Linked DNA regions of Homo sapiens: region 2 is linked to region 1. Evidence: fine-mapped expression QTL. Tissue or cell type: whole blood. Region 1 holds a variant in brackets; the other region holds the start of a gene. All regions are shown on one strand. Distances are between the middles of the regions.

What was found. PIP is the estimated chance that this variant, and not a neighbour inherited with it, causes the effect.
Region 2: it holds the start of PDCD1LG2, and the variant in region 1 is fine-mapped to the expression of PDCD1LG2 in whole blood (TOPMed, PIP above 0.99).

The regions. Positions count from the first base shown.
Region 1 is chr9:5,462,764-5,466,763 of GRCh38, forward strand. CD274 (CD274 molecule) reads left to right here. Exons shown (of 7, transcript NM_014143.4): 4 at 71-358; 5 at 2,736-2,843. The region is part of intron 2 of INCR1 (interferon stimulated noncoding RNA 1); the gene reads right to left. Among named protein-coding and RNA genes, the nearest start is that of CD274, 14 kb to the left of the region's middle. The variant C/A (reference allele first, on the strand shown) is at 2,367.
Region 2 is chr9:5,506,438-5,514,272 of GRCh38, forward strand. It overlaps PDCD1LG2 (programmed cell death 1 ligand 2), which reads left to right and starts at 4,094. Exons shown (of 7, transcript NM_025239.4): 1 at 4,094-4,366. All of the region lies in intron 2 of INCR1 (interferon stimulated noncoding RNA 1), which reads right to left. RefSeq lists enhancers at 2,642-3,841, 3,783-3,862, 3,923-3,982, 4,143-4,192.

The DNA of each region.
Region 1 (4,000 bases):
GACAGCATCAAGCTATGTACGTAGTTCTGTGCTCAGCAAAAGCCCTGACTTCTTTTTGTTTATGTCCTAGCCCCATACAACAAAATCAACCAAAGAATTTTGGTTGTGGATCCAGTCACCTCTGAACATGAACTGACATGTCAGGCTGAGGGCTACCCCAAGGCCGAAGTCATCTGGACAAGCAGTGACCATCAAGTCCTGAGTGGTAAGACCACCACCACCAATTCCAAGAGAGAGGAGAAGCTTTTCAATGTGACCAGCACACTGAGAATCAACACAACAACTAATGAGATTTTCTACTGCACTTTTAGGAGATTAGATCCTGAGGAAAACCATACAGCTGAATTGGTCATCCCAGGTAATATTCTGAATGTGTCCATTAAAATATGTCTAACACTGTCCCCTAGCACCTAGCATGATGTCTGCCTATCATAGTCATTCAGTGATTGTTGAATAAATGAATGAATGAATAACACTATGTTTACAAAATATATCCTAATTCCTCACCTCCATTCATCCAAACCATATTGTTACTTAATAAACATTCAGCAGATATTTATGGAATATACCTTTTGTTCCATGCATTGTAGTACTCATTGGATACACATAGAATAATAAGACTCAGTTCACACTCTTCAGGAAACAGATAAAAAACTAAGAAACAAACAAAAAACAGGCAATCCAACACCATGTGGGAAATGCTTTCATAGCCGGGAAACCTGGGGAATACCTGAGAGGAATACTCAATTCAGGCCTTGTTTCAGGAATCCAAATCCTGGCACATCAGAGCTGCTTCCCTCTTTCCAGGGTGGCAGGAAATAAATGGAACATATTTTTCTATCTTATGCCAAACATGAGGGACCCTTTCTCCCCGGTGCCTCTCCCAAGGTAGTCTACAATATTTCAACTCTAGCAGTCTGCTTAGTGCATAGAACATGAGGCTGTGTGTCCCTGGGCAAATTACTAGACTTCTGTGTGCTTCACTTTCCCTGTAGGATTATAATCTACTGAGCAAGCTTATTGTAAGGGTCAGATTAGCAACAGTGTATGAAAATGATTTGAGACCATTGCCTGCACAAATTCAACTATTTTTTTTTATCTCACTACTCTACAGAAGTAGGTAGGGTGGGAGACAGAGTCTGATGAGAGGCTCAGAATGTGAAAGAAAGTGAGGCGAGTGAGCATGATATTTAATATAAACACAAAGATATTCTGAGAAGAGCTGCTCACTGCCCCCTCCCCCAATACATGTTGATAGGAAAATGCCACGTACTTCAGCAAAAACAACTGAAAAATTAGATAGAAAAGTCAATCAATAGGAAAAGATAATCCAGGACGGTGTTGTGAACAGAAAGAGGGGGAAAAAACTTTAGAAAATGATGGGGATGCTCTTACTGGGGTACGAGTCCTCAGGTATTGAACTGGCTTTCAGTAAAAGCTAGATTAGTGGGTTCCTGCCATTTACAAGCTGTTTTATGACAACTTACTTGTTGGGTGGCCTACAGTAACTCACCTAACTGCACTGAGTCTGTTTCCTCATCTGTAAATTGGGGATTTTTTTTTAAATACCTGGCATGCCTAACTCATAAAGTTGTTCTGAAACTGAAATAAAACATACGTGAACAGGCATTGTAAACTGTAAGTTACGGAAAAAGCTGGCTGTTGTTGTGTCTTTAAAGTTTCACCTGGGTAGTCAAAGATGGATCATGGGTCTCAGTGGAGAGCTGAGCCAGGCAGGAGCTGACTAAGGGTGAGAGGTGGGAGTTAGCAGCCTCTGAACATCTGTGTACCATGGGACCCCCTTTCCTCCTGCATGGTACCCCAGACAAGGAGCCTAGTAAGAGATACTAATGGCTTGTTGTCCAGAGATGTTCAAACTGCAGAGAAAGATAAGACAACAAGCATTGGCCTCCAATCATGATGACAGATAGGAGGAGGTGGGAGCTCCTTAGCAGTGCTGGTTGGCCTTCCATGTTCTACTGTGGGCCATCTCTGCCATGTACTGTAGGCTACTAGCTTCTATATTAAAGAATGCAAGAGGGGCCAGGAGCGGAGGCTCATGCCTGTAATCTCAGCACTTTGGGAGGCCAAGGTGGGCAGATCACTTGAGGTCAGGAGTTTGTGACCAGCCTGGCCAACATGGTGAAACTCTGCCTTTACTAAAAATATAAAAATTAGCTGGGTGTGGTGGTGTGCACCTGTAATCCCAGCTACTCGGGAGACTGAGGCACAAGAATTGCTTGAACCTGGGAGGCGGAAGTTGCAGTGAGCCCAGATTGCGCCACTGCACTCCACCCTGGGCAACAGAGAAAGACTCTGCCTCAAAAAAAAAAAAAAAAAGCAAGAGGAAGTGAAATAATCAAGGC[C/A]GCCATTTAATAGTGAGCAGCCACTCCATGTGGTACTGTGCAAGCACATTATAAATATTAGCCTCACAAGAAATGTATTAGCATTTGTATTTTGTACACTGGTTAAGTATCTTGCCCAAGACCTCAAAACTGGTTAAGGGCAGCAGAATTTAGCCCCAGCACCACCTTTTCAAAGCCTGGGCTTCTCACACTTCTCCATGCTGTTCCCATTTTAACACAGGTATCTCGCCATTCCAGCCACTCAAACTTTGGCATTTAAGAAAATTATCCTAAAGCTAAACTAAACTTCAAGGATGACCATTCTCCTGACCCCTTCCCATCAAAATTTTATCTTTAGTCAGTTTGTTTTCGTTTTGTTTTGTTTTTCAGAACTACCTCTGGCACATCCTCCAAATGAAAGGACTCACTTGGTAATTCTGGGAGCCATCTTATTATGCCTTGGTGTAGCACTGACATTCATCTTCCGTTTAAGAAAAGGTAGTATTTCCTTAATTGCAGTGGTCTCCACTGGGGGTGAGGAAGGGGTGAGAATTGGATCATGGCTGCAAGGAAACCCGACTTAACCTCTGCAAGGTGGTGCAAAGGCATTCCACTGTTCAACAGCAATTATATTGAAGCTGAGTGGGATCACTGGGTGAAGATGAAGCGTAAGGGGTGAGGGGCAGGAGAATGGGTATGGATGGAGGTAGAAGATGCAGTGTCATACAGTTTTTTTCTATCATGAAAATAACCACAGACTTACAGAAGAGAAAGAGCTAAAATGCCCGTCATTTTCAGTTGCATTTTAGTCTTGCATTAGTTGCAACCAGCTGGTTTCTGGGTACCCTAAGTAATAAAAATAGTTCCTCTGTAGAACTGTAGTATGTTTACCATAGAGTATTTTGCAAAATTTTTGGTAGAGGATGTTACATAATTTGCATGTGTTCATTTCTCCATTTACCTGTGGGAACAATTAAAATCCAGGAAAATGAGTATATTCAAATAATTTCCTCCCATTTAAGATGAGTCAGAGTAAATAATTCCTCCAATACTTAGAGAAGTATACCAAGAGATCCAGTGATGGTATAGAGTTGTCTGATGTTAAATAGGGAAGTAGAATATGGAAGGGGATTCCAATAGTCGTTGAAAAATTCCCCATAACCCCTTACATGGGGGAAAGTAGTGTTAACTGAGAGAGTAGAGATAAGCTGTTTCCAAAAATTATATTCTTAACAGGACTGAGATAGCCAGAATATAAGGATCAAGTTTCAATGACAGTAAGATCCTGAGATGGAGTTGATTTGCACAAAGAAATAATTGTTGCCAGCATGCATTTTGAATATTTCTCTGGAAAAAAAGATTAGTTGGCAGTAGAAATGGATAGAAATCAATAGATATTAAAATACCTCAGAATTTGGTTCATCTCTGGGAAAAGATGAAAAATAAAAGTGTATACTCCTCAAGAACATCTAGGATCAAAAGCATGTGCCCTACACTATTGAATTAATTAACCTCATAAGTTGGGACCTGTGGAATAAGGATGTCCACCAGACTTCCTAGGGATTACAAATGTTTCACAGAACTTGAAATTTAAACTTGGGTCACTGTATGGGATGTAGAGCTGTGCTATATGGAAATAAAAATGATTTCTTTTT
Region 2 (7,835 bases), 46 kb after region 1:
AAAAAATACCTACGAATACAGCTAAACAGGGAGGTGAAAGAGCTCTACAATGAGAATTACAAAATACTGCTAGAAGAAATTAGAGATTACACAAACAAATGGGAAAACATTCCATGCTCATGGATAGGAAGAATCAATATCATTAAAACGACCAAAGCGGTTTATAGATTCAATGCTGTTTCCACCAAACTACCAGTGATATTCTTCACTGAACTAGAAAAAAATATTTTAAAATTTATATGGAACCAACAAAGAGCCCAAATAGCCAAGGCAATCAAAGCAAAAAGAACAAAGCCAGAGGCATCATCCTACCAGACTTCAAACTATACTACAAGGGTACAGTAACCAAAACACCATGGTTCTGGTACAAAAACAGACACATAGACCAATGGAACAGAATAGAGAACCCAGAAATAAGGCTGCACACCTACAATTATCTGATCTTTGACAAAGCTGACAAAAACAAGCAATGGAGAAAGGACTTCCTACTCAATAAATGGGGCTGGGATAACTGGCTAGCCATATACAGAAGATGGAAACTAGACTCCTTCCTTACACCAGATACAGAAATCAACTTAAGATGGATTAACAACTTAAATGTAAAACCTAAAACTATAAAAAACCCTGGAAGACAATATAGGCAATACCATTCTGGACATAGAAGTGAGTGAAGATTTCATGACAAAGACACCAAAAGCAATTGCAACAAAAGCAAAAATTGACAAATGGGATCTAATTAAACTAAAGAGCTTCTACACAGCAACAGAAACTATCAACAAAGTAAACACACAACCTACAGAATGGGAGAAAAGTTTTGCAAACTATGCATCTGACAAAGGTCTAATATCCAGTATCTATAAGGAACTTAAACAAATTTACAAGAAGAAAACAAACAACCCAATTAAAAAGTGGGCAAAGGACATGAACAGGCGTTTTTCAAAAGAAGACATACACATGGCCAACAAGCATATAAAAAAGCTCAATATTACTTATCATTAAAGAAATGCAAATCCAAATCACAATGAGAGATCCTCTCACACCAGTCAGAATGGCTATTATTAAAAAGTTAATAAGTTGGCCGGGTGCGGTGGCTCACACCTGTAATCCCAGCACTTTGGAAGGCTGAGGCAGGTAGATCACAAGGTCAGGAGATCCAGACCATCCAGGCTAACATGGTGAAACCCCGTCTCTGCTAAAAATACAAAAAAATTAGCCGGGCGTGGTGGCGGGCGCCTGTAGTCCCAGCTACTCAGGAGGCTGAGGCAGGAGAATGGCATGAACCCAGGAGGTGGAGCTTGCAGTGAGCTGAGATCTCACCACTGTACTCCAGCCTGGAAGACAGAGTGAGACTCCATCTCAAAAAAAAAAAGTTAATAAACAACATGCTGACAAGGTTATGGAGAAAAGGGAATGCTTATACACTATTGGTGGAGTGTAAATTAGTTCAACCATTATGGAAAGCAGTGTGGCAATTCCTCAAAGAGCTAAAAACAGAACTACCATTCAATCCAGCAATCCCATTACTGGGTATATACCCAAAGAAATGTAAATCATTCTATCACAAAGACACATGCACACACATGTTCATCATAGCACTATTCACAATAGCAAAGACATGGAATCAACCTAAATGCCCATCAACGACAGACTGGATAAAGAAAATGTGGTACATATACACCAAGGAATACTATAGAGCCGTAAAAAAGAGCATGTCCTTTGCGGGAACATGGATGGAGCTGGAAGTCATTATGCTTAGCAAATTAATGCAGGAACAGAAAACCAAATACCACATGTGTTCACATATAAGTGGGAGCTAAGTGATAAGAACACATGGACACAAAGAGGGGAACAACACAAACTGGAGCCTAGCTGAGGGTGGAGGCCCCAGGGAGGAGGGAGATGAGCAAAAAAAAAAAAAAAAAAAAAAAAAAAAAAAAAAAAAATGACTGGGTTCTAGGCTTAGTATCTAGGGGACAAAATAATCTGTATGACAAACCTCCATGACACGAGTTTACCTATGTAAAATAAAAGTTTAACAAAAAACTAAAAAAGTTACCTATGTAAAACAAAAGTTTAACAAAAAACTAAAAAAAGTTACCTCCACCCAGAAATGCCTTTATTAACACTTTGGTTTGTAACCCTCCATTATTTTCTCTAGACATATAGATTTATGAGGCAGGCTAATGTGCTGAGACACTAGCTTGAGTTTCATTTGGCCTTGCTGTGAATATACCTGGGCCTTCCTTTGCTTCAGGATGCCCTAAACTGTGGCAAAGCAGAGCTGAACTGCCCAAAGGAAAGTGTGAAGAGGAGAGGCAGGCCAAGCCTGGAGAAAGGCTACCCAAGAGAGAGGAAAGGAAACTGTGGTGAGTGCACCTCACTCCTAAAGAAGGACAGGAACTCTGGTAGGTGAGGTGTGTTTTCCATAGATACTAAAACTCAAAGCCACACAGGGGACATATGTCCATTCCTCAGCCAGTCACTGTGGCCAGGAACAGAGGGTCAGGTAAGAGAATGGCAACTCCTAAGGAAACCACATGCCTGGAGCCGTGGGTGTAGAAGCAGATCCCCAGAGGAAGCACGGGTCCCACAGACACAGTCCCAACTCTTGCCGTCTAGGCAGCCACTCCCATCTGTAGGTACTACACAGCTTCGTAGTACTTCTTAAAGTACTTCTTGTTCAAGCGATGGGACGAAAAGAGGATGCAGGACAAGGAGGAGGAAAGGAGATCCTTGCTTTTGTAGAAGAAACAAGGAGGCAGGGAAGGCTTAGAGGACAGGCAAGGAGAGATGTTTTCTTAAAAACATCCTCTGTCTGAGTGTTCAGCCCCACATCTCTGCTGGTCCTACCCCTATAAGCACAAGGAAAAGGGCGGGAGGCAGCAGGAGAAGGATTGATCATTCAGGCCTATATTCAAGTTTGCCTTTTCTTGCCATGTGGTTTTAATCTCACCAATCACAAGCCTGAAGGTATAGTGGGGCCACTGAGGTCCGAGTTCAAATTCAGCCATGCAACTAAGGAAACATTGTTTGATCTTGGTCCTGTTTTCTCATGTGTAAAATGGGTCTAACTCTAAACCACACATTGCACTGAGAATGAAATGAGGCACTATGAAATGAAGTGAGGTTAGTTGAATAATGTTCCCCCCAAATTCATGTCTACTGAGGACCTCAGAATGTGACTATATTTGGAAGTAGGGTCTACGCAGATGTAGTCTAAATGAGGTCATACTGCATTAGGGTGGGCACTAATCAAACGGATGGTATCCTCATAAGAGGAGAGGAATGTAGAGATACACACAGAAAAGAATGTCATTTGAAGATGGAGGCAGAGATTGGAGTGATACAACTATAAGTCAGGGAATGCCAAGGACTTGAGGTCATGTGTTACAGAAGCCCTAGGAAATGAGTCAATTTCCTGGCACAGCACTAAGACATGCTGGTATTCTTCATTCCATCCCTTTCCCCTATTCCTAAATGTGCTCCAGGGACAATGGGGAAGCTGGAGCACATATAAGAATAGGGGAAAGAGAGGGAATAAAAGGGTATTAAAAACTCTCAAGGTATGTTAAAAAAAAGACTCTCAACAAACCAGGTATTGAAGGAACATACCTCAAAATAATAAGAGCCATCTATGATGAACCCACAGCCAACATCACACTGAATAGGCAAAAGCTGGAAGGATGCCCCTTGAAAACCGGCACAAGACAAGGCTGCCTTCTCTCACCACTCCTATTCACCATACTATTGGAAGTCCTGGCCAGAGCAATCAGGCAAGAGAAAGAAAGAAAAGGCATCCAAGAAGGAAGAGAGGAAGTCAAACTACCCATGTTTGCAGATGACATAATTTTATATCTAGAAAATCCCACAGTCTCAGCCCAAAAGCTCCTTAAGCTGATAAACTTCAGAAAGTTTCAGGATCCCACATGAACATACAAAAATCACTAGTATTCCTAAACACCAACCATAGCTAAGCCAAGAGCCAAATCAGGAATGCAATCCCATTCACAGACAAACTGCTAAAAGCAAAACCAAAACTTTCCAAATAAGCCAGGCTTTCGTCAGTTCCTCAGAACTAGTTCTGGTTTGACTCACTCTCATGTTACGGCAAACCTTAAGCTGAATGAACAACTTTTCTTCTCTTGAATATATCTTAACGCCAAATTTTGAGTGCTTTTTTGTTACCCATCCTCATATGTCCCAGCTAGAAAGAATCCTGGGTTGGAGCTACTGCATGTTGATTGTTTTGTTTTTCCTTTTGGCTGTTCATTTTGGTGGCTACTATAAGGAAATCTAACACAAACAGCAACTGTTTTTTGTTGTTTACTTTTGCATCTTTACTTGTGGAGCTGTGGCAAGTCCTCATGTGAGTAACGAGTGGGTTGAGATACTCTCATACTATTATGTTGTGGACCATGATGAGGCTGCCAGGGTGGGGGAAGGGTGGCCTACCTTCTCTCCACACCATTTGAGGCAAGAGACATTCTGCCTCAGAAATTGTGCTGAGGGGCACAAATAAGCTAATGTCCTCCTGCCCCAGATTTCTCTCACTTGTTCCTATGCATATTGTTCTTGTTGCTCAGTTTTATAAGGTGAGATATTTTCTGCACCAAATATGTGCACTGTAAAATAATATAACTATTCTTAAGATTGTCTCTCAGCTTAGAGTTTTCGGAGGCTTAATGGTGAAGAACTTAAAAATCTGTTTTCCTATGACTGACATCTGTTTGTGATTATCCATTTAGCAGACGGTGATCCCTCCAGGCTGGCCTTTGTTTACAAGCTATGCCTAAGAGGCAGCTGTTGGTGGAGGGGGAACAAAAACAAAAAACCCAAAACTATTATCTTAATAACTTATAGAGGTAATCATTATTGAACAAAAGCATGATTTGGGGACTATGGAAAGGCTTATTCTTTCCATATAAAATGATCAGCGAAAAGGTAGAAAAATTAAACAGAACTGAAATAATTGCTATTGATTGCTCACCGCCTGGATGCACTGAGTAGAAGAGCAAAGGCAATGGGTTCATGTGGAGGGGATGGAGGTGGAGAGGCTAAGCCTGAGTGAGATTACCAACTAATCAGGACTTTTAACCCAAAAATACTATGGCTCTGAGGGGCAGGGAATGAGAGACCTAAATTGACAAAATGCAGAGTAAAAATATTCAGTGTGAGCAGTAATGAGACAGTTGTATCAGGGTCAAATACGGAGTTGGCCTGGATGTCCTCCAAGCTCCTTTCCAAGCCTAAGATTCTGTGAGTGGATGAACAATCCTGGTCCTGCTGCTCTTGCCACTGGAACCTGATCTATTTGCCTTCATTATTTGAGGTCTCCCCATCATCAGGCTCTTTGTTGTCTGCTGCTTCAGGGTGTCTTCTCCCCAGATTTCTCCTGTTGGTGAGCTTTTCCATTGAACTGGAGCTCCTCACAGGCAAGAAGCACACCTTTAAGGTTCTCTGAGTCCCAAGTTCCTAGTGCAGTACCTGGCAATACACATAGGTGCTTAGTGGGTGCTTGCCGAATTGTTGAATGGATTTATTTGATGAAATGTCAGGAGAATCACCAGAAATGAAATGTTCGTGTAATGGACAGGGGGAAGTTTGAGGTTGATTTGAAAAAGGAGATGGTAGAGACAGTATTATGGGTCATGCTTCAGAGTTTATTTGCTTTACAATACATTGGACAGCAACCAGTAGATTGTTGTGTGTCATTTTAATTCCACATGCTAATGTCCAAATATGTCATATGTCTTAATTGTTGCATACGTGGGTTACTCTGTAAAGGGGCAACTGTAGTATCACCTCCTCATGCCACACCCTGCTCCACTGTAGCTGGGCTCGATAACCTTCAAATCAACTCACAGAATTCCAGGACAGACAAGAGCATCTGAAAGGTTATCTAGCCCCAGTCACCTCTGATGCCTTCCAGCTGTCTCTAACACACCTGTGGGCTGACTTCCAGTTCTTAGTCTTCACGGCTCCCTATGATGAACTGCCCCTGCTTTGAGGGATTTTCCTCCATTGCCTCAGAAGTACTGCCCTGGGGGAGCTTCTGATGCTCTTCTGACCACCTTGTCTCTGCCTTTTTCACTAGTCCTCTGTTCCTGCTCTCCAAATTTTGGGACGTTCCTGAGTTCAGATCTTTTCTTTATAATCTTTCTTTTATATTCTCCCCATCAGATGGTTCATTCATTCCTCAATATTAACTAACATTTCCATATTAGAAATAACTTCCTTATCTTTAGCCCTAAATTTTGTCCCAAACTCTGGACCTACAATTTTTTGGAATGCTTATGCCTTGCCCAGACTAAAACCAAACTTACTGTCTTCCCTCTAAAATCAGCTCCCCATCTTCTATTTCTCCCTGCCACCCTTCCTCCCCCATGGCTCCAATATTGTCTTGCCAGTCTGGTCTTAAAACCACAGTCAATCTTGTTGCTTTTCTCTTTGTCTCTTGTGCATGGCTGATCAGCAGTCAATTGTTTTGTCAATTGTCTTATATGTTTCTTCTTCCTCTTCCTTGCTTCCTTTTTCTGACCTGAAGTTAGGGCCTTGTTACCAAACATCTAGATGAATACAGTGACCCCCTAATTGAGAGGCTGTCTACCAATTCCACCCACCCTCAATTCTATACTCAAAAAAAAAATTAGATGTAATCTTTTTCAGATACTCCTTTGGTATTGTCACTTAGTTTTTGAGTGACTGCCACTATTTCCCGATTGGCAGCTCTGCCTGGCATTAAGCTCTTGACATTCTCAACCTAAGTGTCCAGCCAAGTTACTCTGTTCATTGTCCCCTCAACACGCCTGTGCATTTGCACCTCTGAGACTGCTTCTGAGTCAGCTATGCACTGCCCTTTAGAATAGCTTCAACCCCAAATCCTACCAGTGCTTCAAAGGCCCAGTTCAAATCCTACCCCTCTGGGAAGTCTCCCTTCCTTTAGTCAACTTCTAGGGCTTTTGCAATTTTATCACTTGTTTTACATCAGTTTTACTATTTTTCATGTGTGAGAGTTTTAACCTTCCAATTATGGTACAATGTCTTTAAGGGCAAGGGCCCTTTCTTAGAGGAAACCCTCTATGAATTCTCCAATGATAAATTATTCTATGAATTCTCACAACTTTCTAATATAAAGGCTTATAAAAAGTGGGAACTCACTGTTTATTGCTTAAAAAATTGAGATTTAATTTGAACTTAAATGCTCTATTAAATTGAGTAGAATAGCATCTTAAGGCTACTGGTAGTCTATCTATGCCACAGATGGTTTAGAGATCAAATAATTACTCATATACCTATGACAGCAGAGTACTGGCTGTAAGATCCCCCCAAAACTCAAATACCTATTGGGTTTGTCAGGCAACAAAAATAAGTGAATCCAGCTAGGTCTAATACAATGGAAAATGGTAGGACCTGGGGCAAACTCTGCATAACTTGCCCAAAGGCATTCAAATTCAGATTATGTTCAGACATTGCTAATTACAATTAGTGTCTTAGACACTTGGCTTCAAAACAGTGGTTAGTTCAGGTATTTCAGATCAATTGGGTATGCATTTATCTAGGTCTTCATGGATAGCCGGGCTCTACTAGACACTGGGAGAGGGAAGAGGCAAATGGGATAAGACTGGCAGTATTTAACAAAGAATGAAGTATTTTACAAACATGATCCTTTAGGCTGGTTATTGTTACACAAAGGAATGATTTGCTAGGATTCTTGAGATACTTCCATAGAATGTCTATGCCTCACTTATTGCACAGACCAGAGAATTCCATAAAAGCACTGGCTGTGTCTTATTTACCCTTGTATACTAGAGCTTGGCACATAGTAAATACCAAGT